Linked DNA regions of Homo sapiens. The protein of the gene in region 1 purifies or fractionates together with the protein of each later gene. This does not show direct contact. Each region holds a gene or a part of one and is shown on either strand. Other genes may lie near its edges.

Region 1 (2,367 bases):
CTTTGCCCTGAAAGTGCAAGGAACTGTACTGGCGGCAGGTGGAGACCCGGACCTTGGCACTCCCTCCTGCCTGCCTGACCCTCTGCCTCTGAGGACAGCAGTGCCGGGATAGGAGCTGCAGACCTGGGTTCCTGTCCCAGAGGAGGGACCTGCTGATTCAGGGAGCTGAGCGGAGGGATGAGGTCCCTTGCAGCCTTGGAGACCACTCAGTGGACCTGCAGGAGGATGGGAAGTGGGAGCTGCTGCTGTTCCTCAGGTTTTCTCCGGGTGCTTTGCCAGGAGTGCACCAAGAATTGGAGGCAGGGGCGAGAATTGTCACTAAGGGATCCCACCGCTGGTGGCCTCTGTCCCTGTTCACACTTCTCCGGTTCTGTGCTGCATCTTCCAATACGTGCAGTCCACCCTGCCCTGCATCCCTGACCTCTGTTTGCAATCCATTTTGCACTACGGAAAGGAGAAGGGCATGGCCTCAGGAGGGGTGTGTGTGTGTGTGTGTGTGTGTGTATGTGTGTGTGTATGTGTGTGTGTGTGTGTGTGAGAAAGAGGGAGAGAGCCAGGGCATGCAAGGGACCTGGCACAGACAGTACCACAAAATTGGTGACACTAAAAGCTGGCGAACCACCTCTTCAGAGGACACATTCTGTGATTTAGAAAATGCCTCAAGTGAGAGGGGCCTGGCAAAAGAATGGAGACAGGGAGAGTGGCGGTGTTTATGCGTCAGTTTGCTGGGCGTTTCATTCTTGGGAACTGAGGGAGCTGAGAATTGCTGTAGTCATCTCAGAGGCTGCCCCTGTTCTTGCTACACAGCCTCATGCCGTTTACTGTAAGGACGTCCTGGATATCGAGCAGTTCTCGGTGGTGAAAGGGATCTACCTGGACACCGCAGATGAAGACTTCTATGCTCGGTTTGCTACCGGGTGTGTCTCCATCCCCTGGCAGAATGAGGTACTGCCCTTCCAGCACAGCCGCTTTACGTTAGTTCCAACAGTGACCCAGGGAAAAGGGTGTGTGTGTGTCCGTGTGTGTGTGTGTGTCTGTGTGTATTTGGGAGATAAAATTATATAAGACGGCTGGGCGCAGTGGCTCACGCCTGTAATCCCAGCACTTTGGGAGGCTGAGGCAGGCAGATCATGAGGTCAGGAGTTCGAGACCAGCCTGGCCAACATAGTGAAACCCTGTCTCTACTAAAAGTACAAAAATTAGCCAGGCATGGTGGCAGGCACCTGTAGTCCCAGCTAGTAGGGATGCTGAGGCAGGAGAATCGCTTGAACCTGGGAGGCAGAAGTTGCAGTGAGCTGAGATTGCGCCACTGTACTCCACCTTGGGCGACAGAACGAGACTTCGTCTCACCCAAAAAAAAAAAAAAAAAGATTGTATAAGACTTTTGACCACAGGACTAGACCATGGGCAAGCCAAGGACCATATCAGCAGCTGTCCAGAAGCACAGCGGCTGTCCCTGGTCCCAATGACAGGAAGTGGACAGGAGGTAGCTATTTTGGGTCTGATGGGAGCTTGCCTGCCACCCCGAGCCCCACTCCCTAAGCAGGGCTGGCTGGCAGCCAGGGTTCCCATGGTAGTTCCCTGCTTTGGGAGTACACTCAGAGACAAGGGGAGAGGAGACCACATTACTTATTCCAAGAAGAGGTCAGGAAGCAGGGAAGGAGGAACCCAGAAAAGGGGCCCCACAGTGGGTGCAGGAGCTCTGAGGTGCCCCGCACGGGGCTGGGCAGGAGCTGCTGGCACTGGGAGACACCCACTGACCTGGCAGTTTCTCTGCGGCTTCTCTGTCCTGTTATTCTGTGCATGCAGATGATCGAATCTGGGTGTTTCAAAGACATCAACAAAAGTGAAAGTGAGGAAGCTTTGCCATTAGATCTAGACAAGAACATACATACCCCGGTTTCCAGACCAAACAGAGGCTTCTTCTATAGACTCTTCAGAAGAGGGGTAAAAAGACTTAAAAACTAATATATGTGTGTGTATGTGAAAAAAAAAAAAACATACTGACTGCCAAGGTGAAAACCTGGTACTTTTTCTGTTTGCGATGGCTCCTACAGGCAGTTTTATACAGTCTGAGAGCCACATGGTGCTAGGTGGAGGCCAGCCAGAACAATGAGAACACCCTCGCAGTGAGGTTTGTTGCTGGGATGAAGACTGTTCTGATCCAAAACAGGACTACCTTCCAGCATTTACAAACAGGTTCCCGTGTCGCTGACAAAATAGTTTACACTGGGCTCAGAAATCGGCATCCTGTGGAACCTTCGTCAGATGGCACTCACAGTGCATCTCTCCCTGCTCTGGCTCTTAGACTCACCTCCTTCGCCCGCTGCACGGGGAAAGTGGATTCCTTTTTGAAAAGGGAATCCT
Region 2 (3,522 bases), on another chromosome or scaffold:
ATTCCCCCAACTTCAAAGAGAGTCTGTACCTTAAGTAGTGCAGCACAAAAGGGCTTTAGCAAGCTCTTTGGCAGGGTAGAAGCAGTGCAGTGGCGGAAACTTCTTGCAATAAAAAGAGATGTCTGCTGCTTGATGGTTGGATTTTTATTATCCATTACTGCTAAAACATCCTCACTGATGTTCTGTAGTGTGGTCTTTAGAAAGAAAATGTGGTTAATGAGCTTTTTTCAATTGTAAAGAACAATCAAAATATTATATTTACAAACTTTACTTCAGATAAAACTACAAACTCATGCTGTCAACTTACAGTAAGGAAGATTGCATCAATTGCCTCCTGCAGGGCTTGTACCACTTGAGGTTTCTTCTCTTTGAATTTCTCCAAGATGGTTGGCACAACCTGTAAAAGTGAATGGCTAGCACATTATTCAGCAACAAAGAGGAATGATATATTGATATATCCTAGAACATGGCTGAACCTTAAAAATAGTATGCTAAGTTAAAAAAAAAGCCAGTCACAGGCTGGGCACAGTGACTCATGCCTGTAATCCCAGCACTTTGGGAGGCTGAGGCAGGTGGGTTGCTTGAGGCAAGGAGTTCAAGACCAGCCTGGGCAACAGAGTGAGATCTTGTCTCTACTAAAACAAACAAAAAAAAATTAGCCAGGTGTGGTGGTATGTGCCTATGATCCCAGCTACTTGGGAGGCTGAGGTGGGAGGATTACTTGAACCCAGGAGGTCAAAGCTGCAGTGAGCTACGACTGCATCACTGTATTGTAGCCTGGGCAACACAGCAAGACCCTGTCTTCCAAAAAAAAAAAAAAAGCAGTCACAAAGACCATGTATTGTATGACTCCATTTACATGAAATGTTAAATCCAGAGACAAAAAAGTAGATTAGTGGTTGCTAGAGTCAAGGGCAGGGAGCAGCATGGGGAGAGACTGTTAATGGGCAAGGGGTTTCTTTTTGGGGTGATGAAGATGTTCTGGAATTAGATAGTGCTGATGGTTATGTAACATTGTGAATATTCTAAAATCACTTTAAGAGGGTAAATTTTATAGTATGCAAGTTTTATCTCAATAAAACTTACTTTCTAAAAAACCACCTTGTCTCCACCAAAACAAACCAATAAAGCAAACATTTAAGTGGAATAAAAAGTCATTTCCTTTCATGAAGGACATCGTATCTTATGCCGGAACAATGAAGAATTCTCATTCTCTCCCACTATGGCAGTGCTTCTCAACCTATTTGCCGCCTCTGCTCTGTCACCCACGTGGGAGTGCAGTGGGATGAACATGGCTCACTGAAGCCTCGGCCTCCTGGGCTCAAGTAATCCTCTCATCTCAGCCTCCCGAGTAGGTAGGCCTCAGGTATATGTCACCACACCTGCTATTTTTTTTTTTAATTCTTAATTTCTTGACCATTTCCCTGTAAATATAATTTTTTATTTTATTTTTTGTCGAGACGGGGGTTTCTCCATGTTGCCCAGGCTGGGGAAGAAAATTTCTAAGGTCCAAAGGACACAGCAAAGCTCAATGGCATCCAAAAACAAGAAATAATTGTTTTCAAGATTTCACAGAAGTGGTTATAGACTACTTGGTATAGTTCAAGGACTATGGTTCCCATGGAAAAATACAAGACTTTTTAATACTAGTTATAAACTTGAAAATCAAGATATTTTAATGTCTATAAAGCTAACATTCACTTTTATAAATATTGCCAAAAAGTTTGTAAACATTTAAAGAAAATAAAGCCAAGTCAGTAACATGCTTGATACTAAACACCGCATATATTACAGTATTAAGGTGGGGGAGACCCCAAACTACAGAGCAATAGAGACATTCTTTAACCAGGACAACAAACTGAAACAAAGCCAGAATCAGAACTCAAACTGGAAAGCCAGTTAATTATCCAACCATAATTTGGTAAATTAAAATGAATTTTAGGCCGGGTGTGGTGGCTCAAGCCTGTAATCCCAGCACTTTGGGAGGCTGAGGCAGGCAGATAGCTTGAGCTCAGGATTTCGAGACCAGCCTGGGCAAGGTGGCAAAACCCCATCTCTACCAAAAATACAAAAAGTACTCAAGCATGGTGTGGGGTGTGCCTGAAGTCCCAGCTACTCAGGAGACTGAGGTGGGAGGATCACCTGCGCCTAGGAGGTTAAGGCTGCAGTGAACTGAGATGGTGCCACTGCACTCCAGCCTGGGTGACAAAGTGAGACCCTGTCTCAAAAAAAAAAAACTAAAATTATTCTCTGAACTGATATTTAAGTGGTGTAGGAAAAAATTGTTTTTTATCTTGAAAAATTATTCCCAATATAAAAGTGTAAAATATCCTAAGTAATATAAAATTGATCAAAATGGCATATACACATCGATATTATATAATATTGATTGCTATAAAAATAGATTTTAATTTTATTTCAATTTATGATGTATATGTCTAAGGGTTTTACAGACCCTTATTTTTATTTCCCTAGTAATAAGCCAGTCATGATTTATTTTTATTTGGTAGTGTCTTCTTTTTCTTCAGTTAAGTTCTCTGAGATTATTTTTAATGCTATGAGTAAGCAAGCTCCAAATACCATAGCTCATGTGAGGCTAGGTATTAGCTTCACAATATAAAATGGACACATGACTAGGGACTATTAGGAAACTCCTAAGTCAGTCTAGGGAATCAAATGATGAAGGGGCTAGCAAGCTAAACTCTAAAGATCAATAAGGTCAATTTTTAGGATGCTGAGCCATTCTTAGTAATGCAGACCGGATTTAGAGGCCAAAGGACAGATGCCACAGTTAAAGAAAACATCTTAATTAAAATTATTACCAAATTTGATTGGAAACAAACTTATACAAATAGTAAGTCAACAAATGTCTCCAGTCAGATTTTCTTTGAATAAGTAAAACGGAGATAACCTATATAAAATATATAACATTGTAACCTATATAAAATGTCTCAAATATGTAAGTAAATTATATATTAAAATAGGAAAACAATGTAAAACACATTTTATATATTAACCTCACAGTTTTACATTTATAGTTTTACATTGCCTTTCCGACTCTCATTTTCATTCTGGTCCTGGTCGTTACAAGTTTTGTTTCATCTTGTTATGATGTGTATAATGTTGTAAGAACAAAGCAAGATACTAGTAAGTAAATAAGTAATAAGCAAATAAATAAACTCAACTAAGTACTTTAGGCCTAGTGCCTGACTTTCTACATAAGGCCTATAAATTTTGTTACAACTGACATCTACTGAAATTTCTAAGATATATCTATGCTGAATATTAACAAAACAGAGAGAAATTTACTTTGTACAGTATATACACATCTATGCCAAGGAGTTGTTTTAAAGCAAACAGCAAACTAGGCCTACCATTTTTGATAAATTTTGTTGATCTGTATCTAAAAAGGAGTGTTACTTACATGTCCTGCATATTGTCCAAATTTCTTCCTTAGCCCAACAGCCAGGCCAGTAAGACATTTTGCTGCCAAAGCCACCAACATGACATTGGTGTCCTTTC
Region 3 (3,522 bases), on another chromosome or scaffold:
TGCTGAGGGTTGGTGTTAGAATAAAGGGTGAAAATGTATATAGCAAAATATTTTAAAGATTGGATTAATCTTGGACTTCTATATTATAGTTACTATGAAAGTGATTTATATAATATTTGAAAAAATGTCTTTCATCTTTGGAAGAACTATAAATGTACATCTATTTCTTTAGTTTTAATTCTTTAATACTATTTAGTCTTGAAGCTAAGTACTCAGCCAGTATTTCAGGAAGTTAGAAATAAAGCTTATGGGTGTTAAAATAGGCACATAATACAGAGTCATGTACACTGCTAGGTAGAAACTTCTGAATGTGCTTCCATTACAAAATTTTGGTCTTTATCTAATGATGTGCTGATCCATAATGTTTGTATACTTATAAATGTGTTAATAACTTAAATAACTTTTAAAAAGTGAATCTTTTACTGACTCAATTGGTTTTCCCCTAAAATAATTTCTTCTGGTATTTGCAGTCTTGTAGGCAGTTAACAGACTTTAATAACTTTAAAATGTTTAGTAGCACCTTGAAAAAAGGCTTCAACTTTATATTTTATGTAAGATATACTTTGGGAAGCAAATTATTTTGATAAATTATGAGATAAAGATATGTTCAGACCAAATTTTAAATTATAGATAAAAGTAGCACTTAAAGGAAAAGATTCATTTGTATAGAATTACTGAAGAATATTTGATGCTAGTATCAACTAAAAAAGAAACTTTTGAAAATTAAAAATGGGCCACAACATGTAGAAGTCATTAGGCAGCTGAAAATTTAGGATGTATGATCCATGTTAAATATCACAAATATTGTCTACTCATTAAATGTTTAGTTGTGTTTAGAAAACCTGTCAAACGATCATTTTGGCTCTTCTTTAGTATAGTCCAGCATCTGCCTTATGTGTTAAAAAACACATGGAATACCAACATCCTCCGTGTTCTTTTTAGTTTGTTGCAGTGTATTTTTAGATTACAAAAAAAGCAAAGTTTTATCAGTAGTCTCATTAATCAGTAAAACATTTAAAGTAGTTCGTTTAAAAGAAATTTTATTTCTAGAATGGAATGATTTGGATGTGACCTGATAAATACAGTTTGTTATTGTGGTCTCATTAAATTAATCAGCTTTTTCACACTGGGGTAAAGAAACAGATGATGATACTAGGGAATGGAAACAAAATTGGAAACCTGGGTTATTTGGGGATTTATATTGTACTCTGCACAGTTGCCCTTTTTTTTAGGCGTGTTCCCTGGAAAAGAGGGACGGATGAACCTGGAAGTAAGTAAAAGACATTCTAGGTGTGTAGCATCAAGGCAGTTAATATCCAAGCATCAGCTTTCTCTTTATACATCTACACTGCATGGCCTGCACCAAATAAGGAACTGAACCAGGGGTATGTTTTTACCTCCACAGCTGCCTCCTTCCATCAGAGCACCTTGATGAACTTAATGTCTAGTCACACGTCATTGGCATGTTTTCTCCCCAGCATTTAATTACAAAGCTGGGAAACAAAAGATGATAGATACAGTTTTACTACTGCATACAAACATTTCTTTTTTACATTCAGTATTAACTTATCAATATAGGAGATGTGCATACTATTTCCTGAGCTACTGAAGTTTTTTTACTCTCTCTGTTGATAAGTTAATGACTTTTGCTATATTATATATTTATATATATATATATATATATATTTGGTAAGAGAACATAAAAACCTAAAATTTAGTAACAAGGGGAAAATAAAGCATGATTTGGAGATATGTTTCAAATTTTTAAAAAATGACCATAAAGATCAACAGTACAACTTAATACTGTTTGCTATATGTACATGGATGCCCTTTAATAAGAGGCATTGAATATTTCTTAACCTGTAAAAATAACTGTTGACCATGCTAATGTATATATACTTGTGCATCTTAGGACATTAAGTGGTTTGCTGCTTTGATGGAAATTATGGTTCAGTGGGTTGGATACAAGAGAGATGACTGTTCACAGAATAACCTGTGAACTTTCACCCCTCTGTATGGAAACTTGTTTCAGGGCCAAATCCTTGTAGCTGTCTTCTTGCCCCGGTCAGTGCCAGCCGTACTATTCACAACACTGCTGCTACCGAGGCCTAGGTATGTAAACATTTAAGGAGTTTTTTAAAAGTCTTTTAACATCAAGCTAGGTTTTAAAAGAATTCAAATTCATTTTGGCATACTTACAGGATATTTTATGTGATTGTTTTCTATTTGTTACTGTGTAAATTTCAAGAGTTTTTTTTTTTTTTTCTGCTTTAGGGATTTTCTAAGTAAAATATTTATACTTGCTTTATAGTAGAATGGGGAAGAAAACTTTGGATGACAACAGTATGCTTCTTCAGTGTCTAAACTATTTCTAAGTGATTTCTGGGCTTTATTCATAAACTAGGTACACCTGGGACAATTAATATCATTGATTGTTTTAACATTGCCTTCTTTTTATTTTGCAAGCTAAGAAGAGATACCAGTGAACCTAAATAGTGGACGAAAACAGGAGTGTTCTAATTTTTTTTTTTTGAGGGGGGCACGAGGGCTACTGTTTCAAAACTGCCATTTACTTGTCTTATTTGACTTCCAAAATACTATTACGTTAATGTGCAAATAATCAGAACATACACACTACAGTATGTATAAAGTATAGAGGAATTTACATTTAATTGCTATAACAGATCTAGAAGTAAAGTAAGATTCCTCTTTTTAGAAAGTAAACAATGAATCTGTCACCAAGTTCTAACTGTAAAATGGGGACATTTTACCTTTCTTTCTTTGGATAGGATCAGTTCTTAAGAGCAGCCCCGGTAACTGGAGGAATGGGAGCCGTTTTGATGAGAAAAATGGGCTGGAGAGAAGGAGAAGGATTAGGAAAAAACAAAGAAGGCAATAAGGAACCCATCCTAGTTGATTTTAAGACAGACCGAAAAGGTAACAAGTTCTTTTTTGGAATGTTTATTAACGTCTCCTTTAACATTACCTTTAATATATCCTTTTGAACCCAGTGATACTGAACTGAAGGCACTTCTTGTATATATACAGGTATTTGTCAGAAAAAACATTAACCCCTTTTGGGGTTCACAGAGCAGCTTATTTTTATATAACTATGGATAGAGACACCAGTTTGAACTTTTAAAAGGCACCTTTTGTTATGCTAGTTGCTAAATATGGAAATGTGTATATATCTAATTTTATTATTACACCTCCAAATTCAACTGGATTTCATGTTTAGAAAACAGGATTTCCATTTTATTTTCTCTTGACAAGGAACCATCCTTTTTTCTAGAGTTTAGTTTATTTTTTGTTAGATATTTTAGCACATCTTCATTATTTCCTATTACAATACTGGTTTAGTCTAGATTTCATAAACCCTGTTTGCTTTTTTCTTCCAAGCTCAGTAGTTAAGTTGGGTTAGAGTATAGTAGACCAGCTGCTGACAATAATGTTACTTCTTCCTGTTGCCTTGTGTTAAGGCATCTTGGAACTGTTAGCATTGACTGTATTTTCCTTTTACCT
Region 4 (3,522 bases), on another chromosome or scaffold:
AGTGAAATTGTAAACATGGAATCACGGCACCTCTCAAATATATGCACTATGAAAAAGGCCCATTCACGTAAATAATCCAAAAAAGTATGTAATTCAATAATATCTGGGTGTATTTTAGCAGATCTTCCTTCTTAAATATGATCTGCTAAGTATATTTTAAAAATTGGCTCTTATTCCCTATACAAACTTAAGGGAATTAGGAAAACAGAACATGTGGAAATTCAAAAGCATGCTATACAGGAAACTGTAGGTAGCCCCAGAGATTTAAATGGAACTAAGGCTAACCCACAAATGCAAGTGAGAGGTACTTAGCAACTTAGGCAATGAATCAAAAGAAATAGAAGACATAGTCCGTGACCTGCAGGAACTTAGCGAGATAGTCTGTGACCTAAGATATGCACAAAACAAACAGGTAAAAGCAATTTGCCAAACAATATACCCTCTTATAATAATAATTTTAAAACTATTTAAATAGTTAGAGTTAAAAGACATCCAAGAAGTAACTAATAAAAACAAATAACCTTTATAGAACTATACTAAATGAAAATGTCACAATACAAACTATCACTATCTATCTCAATAAAGGAAATAAAAGAAAAACTAAGCCAGGAAAAACAGGCTTTTAGCTTTGTACCTAAATAGAGAAGCTCGGGCAATCCACATAAAGGACTTCTTTGACATTCTCCTGATAAAAGCAGTTAAAAACCTTACAGAGTTGTCTATAAGAACAAACAATTAAAAACAACCTAAAAGTTTAACATCGTAGGAACATCCAAAATTATGGTACATAAACAGAATGAATACAGTCATTTATAATAATTAACAAAACAAATGTCTTATTCTAGGTTTTTTTTTTTTAAAAAAAAAGCACAAAATCAGTTAATCACAACTAATAAAAATTACATTTGGTCAAGAACTAAAAAGTCAATTGCAAAAATGAGAATAGCTATGTTACGCTGATAAATTATGAGTGATTCTTTCATATCTTTTATGTTGTTGCCAATAAAGAAATTTTTTTTAAAAGAACTACCCTTTATAGGGGTTGTCCTACTGATTTCTTTGCCATAATTTGGCTGCATTCAATCTGTCCTTTTCAGATAAGGACTACAATTAACCAGTTCCTGTTAATGTCTTCAAACTTTCCTTTTTGCTGCTAAATAATGGTCCCATTCCCCATACATGCATACCCTCTACCCCATCCTTCCCCCCGCCATAACATTTACATTTTACCCAACTCTAGAGCACTGGCCAAGCTAATGCCTCTACTTCTTAGCAGTCTCTTTCTCGCAGAGCACTTCCTAAGCTTATGGGTTCTCTCCTCACCAAGGAGTTAATGACCAGACTCAAGGACTAGGTAAGTCGTAAGATAACCATATAAAGAGGGAGAAGTCTGTGTCTGTTTTTATGAGATCTCTGGAATGGTATCCATTGGGGTCTAAATGAGGGAGGAAACTAACTTTTCATAAAATTGAGACCTAATAAATTTCCAAAAAGAATTAATTCCAAAACTATCATTTGGAGTCATAATACATATATGAATACCCAAATCTTCTACAAATCTAGCAAAAGAAGGGACACATTTTCTACAATGAAAAACAAAGCTATTTATTATCAGGCCTAAGAGAGCAATCATGCCTCCTAACAACATTCACATTACCTGTCCCTTCCAATCACAAATTATTACCAAATCGACTTTTAAAAGATATAATCTACCTCAATCAAATCGTATGTATTACTTACTTCCGTTTTTTTGCTTTAACAGGCTCATCTTCATTAATTTCTTCCATTAATTCTTGTTCCTCTTTAACTATAAGACAAAATTTAATTAAAATATTTAGGAATGAATCCTTCTGCTAATCACTACCAGAACACTTGCTTTAATAGTATTAAAAAGAAGCTGCAATTTATGGTTAGTTCACTCACTTGCACTCATAGAGAATTGCCACTTTTGGATCGACAGCATTGTCGGAGTTGGGTGCCCTGGCAAAAACATTTCAAATATTGTTACAAAGTCATTTGCATATATTTCACAAACTTTTCTTTTTAAAAATTACTGTTTACATAATATATTCACCTCTTAATATTCATCCCTTTATAAAACATTAAACAAAGCATAATTCTACACTTCCTCTATTTATCCTCCCTTTACATTAAATTTAATTCATTTTGAAATGTTTCTTGCCCAAACCTTAAATTTACAAATATATAAAATAAAGCTTTCTTGATTCAGGATTTACAGTACCTTTTAACAATGCACGTTAATGTATTTATCAAATGAATGAATCAAATATTTAAAAACAAATTCACGAAAAACAAAAGAAAATCACATATTGTTTCAACATCATTCAATACCATAGTTATAAAGTATTATTATCATACCTATAAAACAAGTATTGCTGAAGGTGAGCCTAGTACCTTCAGCACTAGATAGGCAAAGCGGCACTGACTCAGAAATTACTTATAATTCAGCATATATATAATGCATGAAAATGTCTCAATGACTATAAATGATACACACTAGGATTTATTTCATTAGAAGCATTAAATAATTCATTTATCTTGCTTCTATACCACTTGCGGGCCACAGTTCTATAAAAACACAATCATATCAACACAAGGGCAAATTACCAATAAGAAATACACAACAAAAATTACGTACAAATATCTGTACTCAATATATTAGTATGCCCTCTGAATATGAGATAGATTAAAAGATAATCTCTTAGTAAGGTTTAGGTGTCTAGTCTCAGGAATATAAGGAGCTTACCATCTAATTCAAAAGATTGAGATTTTGTATTTTTAAAAAATTTGTAATGTATTATTTCAAGAAATATATTACTAGTCACAAAAGGTGCTAAAAGGCCCACCGAGGAGCATTTTAGTAGTATTGATAAGCACTAAGCAAGCAGCAACACTACCAACCATATCTTGGACTAACTGAAAATCTTGAGTAGGACAATAAATTAAAGACACACATATTTTACAAAGCACAATCTTATCCAAATTCTCTCCATATTTTTAATCTCTATTATTTCATTCAAACTAGGATAGCAGTCTATTTTTTTCGAATGCTTCTTATATTCTTTGAAAAATAAAGGGTTTCTAAATGCCTTCCACATTTTCTATCAAAATATGAAAAGAATGTTAAAATCAGTGGATAAATTCCTAATTTAAAACTTACTTAGTTTCTTCAATTCCTCCATTCCTTTTTTATGAGGGGGCTCCTGAATAATTTTGTCAACATCTGCCCTGCCAATCAGATCATCAGGTCGGTCCCACATAGAAAGACGAGTGGTGGGATTATAAAAGAAGACCCGCTCATCACCAGTCCAAACGACACACCTAAGAATTGATGCAAAATATCATTCTCTTATGTTACAGAACATATTTTACAGCTAGGACTTCTTTCAGCCTGTTACAAGTAGGGAGATGAGGGTACTGAAGAACGACATGTTCTTATTACCAATAGTTATTTACAGAGAACCAAACATGGTTTTTACAAGATAACTGAATGACTCAAGC
Region 5 (3,522 bases), on another chromosome or scaffold:
CCAGGGCATAAAACCCCTCGTGGCTTGGATGGAATCCAGGACTCGTGGCTCTGGAATGTGTCTAGACTTGCTGGCTCCTTGCTCCTTGCTCTCCCAGGATCGATTGTATCTTGAGTTAAAAGAACCTGCTCTCGGCCGGGCGCGGTGGCTCACGCCTGTAATCCCAGCACTTTGGGAGGCCGAGGCGGGCGGATCACGAGGTCAGGAGATCGAGACCATCCTGGCTAACACGGTGAAACCCCGTCTCTACTAAAAATACAAAAAATTAGCCGGGCGTGGTGGTGGGCGCCTGTAATCCCAGCTACTCGGGAGGCTGAGGCAGGAGAATGGCATGAACCCAAGAGGCGGAGCTTGCAGTGAGCCGGGATAGCGCCACTGCAGTCCAGCTTGGGCGAAAGAGTGAGACTCCGTCTCAAAAAAAAAAAAAAAAAAAAAAAAAAAAGAACCTGCTCTCCATTATCTCAAGTAGCAGAGCAGATGCTAAATCATCACACCTGTAAATCATGTGCTTAATGCAACGCGACCTTTCGACCCCCACATTCTCACCACCTGTTTCTTTGTTTGATCACCAATAAATAGTCTGGGCTTCCAGAGCTCAGGGCCTTCACAGCCTCCATACTTAGCGATGGCCCCCTGGACCCACTTTCGCTCTCAAACTGTCTTTTCTCATTCCTTCGACTCCACCAGACTTCGTCACCCCCACGACCTGGTGTTGGGTCTGATCACCCCAGCAAAAATTAAATAGAAGAGTAAAACATAAGCCCCTCTTAGAAATAAAACAAAACAAAGAAATCTTTGCAACTTTGAGTTTGGCAGAGTTCCTACATGACACCAAAATGATGACCCATTTTTTTAGAAATTCATACATTGGCCTTCATCAAGATTAAAAACTTTTGCTCTGCAAAAGACACTGTTAAGAGAATGAAAATACTGAGAAAAAATATGTGCAAAACACAAAGACATAAGCAAAAGTTTTGAACAGATAATTCACCAAGAAGACATATGAATGGCAAACACACACACACACACAAAGATGTTCAACATCACTAGGAAAATTAAAATTAAAACCACACTGAGATATCACAACACACTTGCTAGAATAGCTAAGATTAAAAACCACTAACACTGCTGAGTGCAGGTGGGGCCACGGCATCCCTGGAGCTCTCCCACACTGCTGAGTGACAGTGGGGCCACGGCATCCCTGGAGCTCTCCCACACTGCTGAATGCCCGCGGGGCCACGGCATCCCTGGGGCTCTCGCACACTGCTGAGTGCCAGCGGGGCCACGGCATCCCTGCAGCTCTCCCACACTGCTGAGTGCCCGCGGGGCCACGGCATCCCCGGAGCTCTCGCACACTGCTGAGTGTCAGGGGGCCACGGCATCCCTGGAGCTCTCCCACACTGCTGAGTGCCGGGGGGCCACGGCATCCCTGGAGCTCTCCCACACTGCTGTGTGCGGGTGGAGCCATGGCATCCCTGGAGCTCTCCCACACTGCTGAGTGGGGGTGGAGCCATGGCATCCCTGGAGCTCTCCCACACTGCTGTGTGCGGGTGGAGCCATGGCATCCCTGGAGCTCTCCCACACTGCTGGTGCAGCGGCAAAGCAGCCACAGCCATACTGGAAAAGAGTCTGGCAACTTCTGAAAACAATGAGCATGCACCTGCCCTGAGGCCCAACAACCCCACTTGCAGGTGTTTATTCTAGAAAACTAACTTAAGTTCACATAAAAAACCTGTCCATGAATGTTCATAGCAGCATTATCCATAACTGCCAAAAACGGAAGCACTCCAAATGTCCCTCAGTGGTAAAATGGATAAACTGGTTCATCATACAATGGAACACTACTCTGCAATGAAAAGGTGAACTATTGATATGGCACTGTAAATGCATCTCAAACGCGTTATACTAAGTGAAAGAAACAAGTCTCAAAACTTTTGACTGAACACTGTATGACTGCATTTACGTGAAATTCTAGAAGCGGAGACATACACAGACACAGGATGGTGGCGGCCAGCACAAAGGCAAAATGGTAGCACAGAGGAAATCACTGTGAACCTAAACACTGAGAATTTTTTTAAATGGGCTAAATAGCAGAATGGAGATACTAAAGGACAATTTAAATGCAAGCTAGAAAATCAAACACAACAAAAGAACAGTTAGAAATTATGAAGAAAAAATAGTAAAATTTTTCTATCATTAAAAAAAAGTCAGCCCTGCGTGGTGGCTCACACCTGTAATTGCAACACTTTCAGGGGCTGAGGTGGATCACTTGAGCCCAGGAGTTTGCGACCAGCCTGGACAATACAGCAAGATCCTTCTCAAAAAAAAAATTCTAAGTCTGTCACTAGCTTTGAAAAAAATAATAAATTTTAAAAAAAGGAAAAGTCCTCAGATTGAAGGATCATCAAGTGTTAATCCAGGTAAATTTTTAAGTTCCACACCTAGACACATTATTGCAAAATTTCAGAACATGCAGGATTTTTTAAAATTCTAAAAGCTACCAGACACATCTTCAAAGGAGTAAGAAATGGATTAACATCAGACTTCTCATCAATAATGAAAGAATACCTTCAAAGTGGGCAGAGGAAAAACACTTCAGACCAGAATATCTATATCTGACTGATGATCCAAGAGTTCAGGAATAGAAGCGTAAGAGAAATAAAGACATTTTCAGACTATTAAGTAATTATTTAGATCAGCAAATCCTGTTGATTCTATTTCTAAAAGCATATCCCAAATATGATCACTCCACAGCTACCATCCCATTACAGGAAGTCTCCTGAGGAGCTGCTCACTTGCTTCCACCTTTGCCCCCTTAGAGTGAATTATCCACCCAGCAGTCAAAGTGATCCTCTTAAAATATAAATATTATCATCACTCTGCTCACACACCCATCACACTCACAACAGAACCCAACCTCCTGGCCCCAGCCCAGGGAGCCGGCCCCTTGCTCCCCACATTGCACTCCTGCTATTCCTGGAACACACCAAGCTCACCTCCAGCTCGGCACCCAGCTCTCTCTTCTCCACATCCTCTAAGGACTCACACCCCCCCATCTTTCTGTCCCTATTCTAGCTAAAGCAGACACAAGCGCACTGTGTCAGCAAGGATCCAGTGAATGCCTGCATAGTGGGGAAAGGAACAAAATGAAATCTAAAATGTTTTGTGGGGTCACAGGGTCGGGGTAGTTTTTTTCTCCTTATATTTTTCCACTTTCTGAATTTTTACACTGCGTATATATTAATTTTACAAATATTAAAAGTATCATTGAAAAGTTTCCTTTAAAAGTTGTGTCACTATTTAAGAATTTTTTTTTTCCCAGACAAGGTCTCACTCTGTCGCCCAGGCTGGAGTGCAGTGGTAAGATCTCGGCTCCCTGCAACCTCTGCCTCCTGGGCTCAAGTGATTCCCCCACCTCAGCCTCCCAAGTAGCTGGGACTACAGGTATGTGTCACCACATCCAGCTAATTTTTATATTTTCTGTACAGACAGGGTCTTACCATGTTGCCCAGGCTGGTCTCG

The links.
Region 2: the proteins of GRK4 (region 1) and CKAP5 purify together in Homo sapiens (affinity purification with mass spectrometry; one large-scale study listed by BioGRID and IntAct). This does not show direct contact.
Region 3: the proteins of GRK4 (region 1) and SON purify together in Homo sapiens (affinity purification with mass spectrometry; one large-scale study listed by BioGRID and IntAct). This does not show direct contact.
Region 4: the proteins of GRK4 (region 1) and TCERG1 purify together in Homo sapiens (affinity purification with mass spectrometry; one large-scale study listed by BioGRID and IntAct). This does not show direct contact.
Region 5: the proteins of GRK4 (region 1) and TUBGCP3 purify together in Homo sapiens (affinity purification with mass spectrometry; one large-scale study listed by BioGRID and IntAct). This does not show direct contact.

The regions. Positions count from the first base shown.
Region 1 is NC_000004.12:3,036,567-3,038,933, forward strand, and holds part of GRK4 (G protein-coupled receptor kinase 4), read left to right. Parts: intron 1-807; coding exon 808-945; intron 946-1,809; coding exon 1,810-1,947; intron 1,948-2,057; coding exon of another isoform or gene 2,058-2,093; exon of another isoform or gene 2,094-2,367. UniProt on the Homo sapiens protein: Specifically phosphorylates the activated forms of G protein-coupled receptors. GRK4-alpha can phosphorylate rhodopsin and its activity is inhibited by calmodulin; the other three isoforms do not phosphorylate rhodopsin and do not interact with calmodulin.
Region 2 is NC_000011.10:46,797,776-46,801,297, forward strand, and holds part of CKAP5 (cytoskeleton-associated protein 5), read right to left. Parts: coding exon 3,425-3,522; intron 398-3,424; coding exon 308-397; intron 195-307; coding exon 30-194; intron 1-29. UniProt on the Homo sapiens protein: Binds to the plus end of microtubules and regulates microtubule dynamics and microtubule organization. Acts as a processive microtubule polymerase. Promotes cytoplasmic microtubule nucleation and elongation. Plays a major role in organizing spindle poles.
Region 3 is NC_000021.9:33,570,519-33,574,040, forward strand, and holds part of SON (protein SON), read left to right. Parts: intron 1-2,032; exon of another isoform or gene 2,033-2,112; intron 2,113-2,789; coding exon 2,790-2,937; intron 2,938-3,522. UniProt on the Homo sapiens protein: RNA-binding protein that acts as a mRNA splicing cofactor by promoting efficient splicing of transcripts that possess weak splice sites.
Region 4 is NC_000005.10:146,478,313-146,481,834, reverse strand, and holds part of TCERG1 (transcription elongation regulator 1), read right to left. Parts: intron 3,343-3,522; coding exon 3,182-3,342; intron 1,981-3,181; coding exon 1,924-1,980; intron 1,808-1,923; coding exon 1,741-1,807; exon of another isoform or gene 686-1,740; coding exon 635-685; exon of another isoform or gene 389-634; coding exon of another isoform or gene 265-388; exon of another isoform or gene 1-264. UniProt on the Homo sapiens protein: Transcription factor that binds RNA polymerase II and inhibits the elongation of transcripts from target promoters. Regulates transcription elongation in a TATA box-dependent manner.
Region 5 is NC_000013.11:112,578,145-112,581,666, forward strand, and holds part of TUBGCP3 (gamma-tubulin complex component 3), read right to left. Parts: intron 1-3,522. UniProt on the Homo sapiens protein: Component of the gamma-tubulin ring complex (gTuRC) which mediates microtubule nucleation.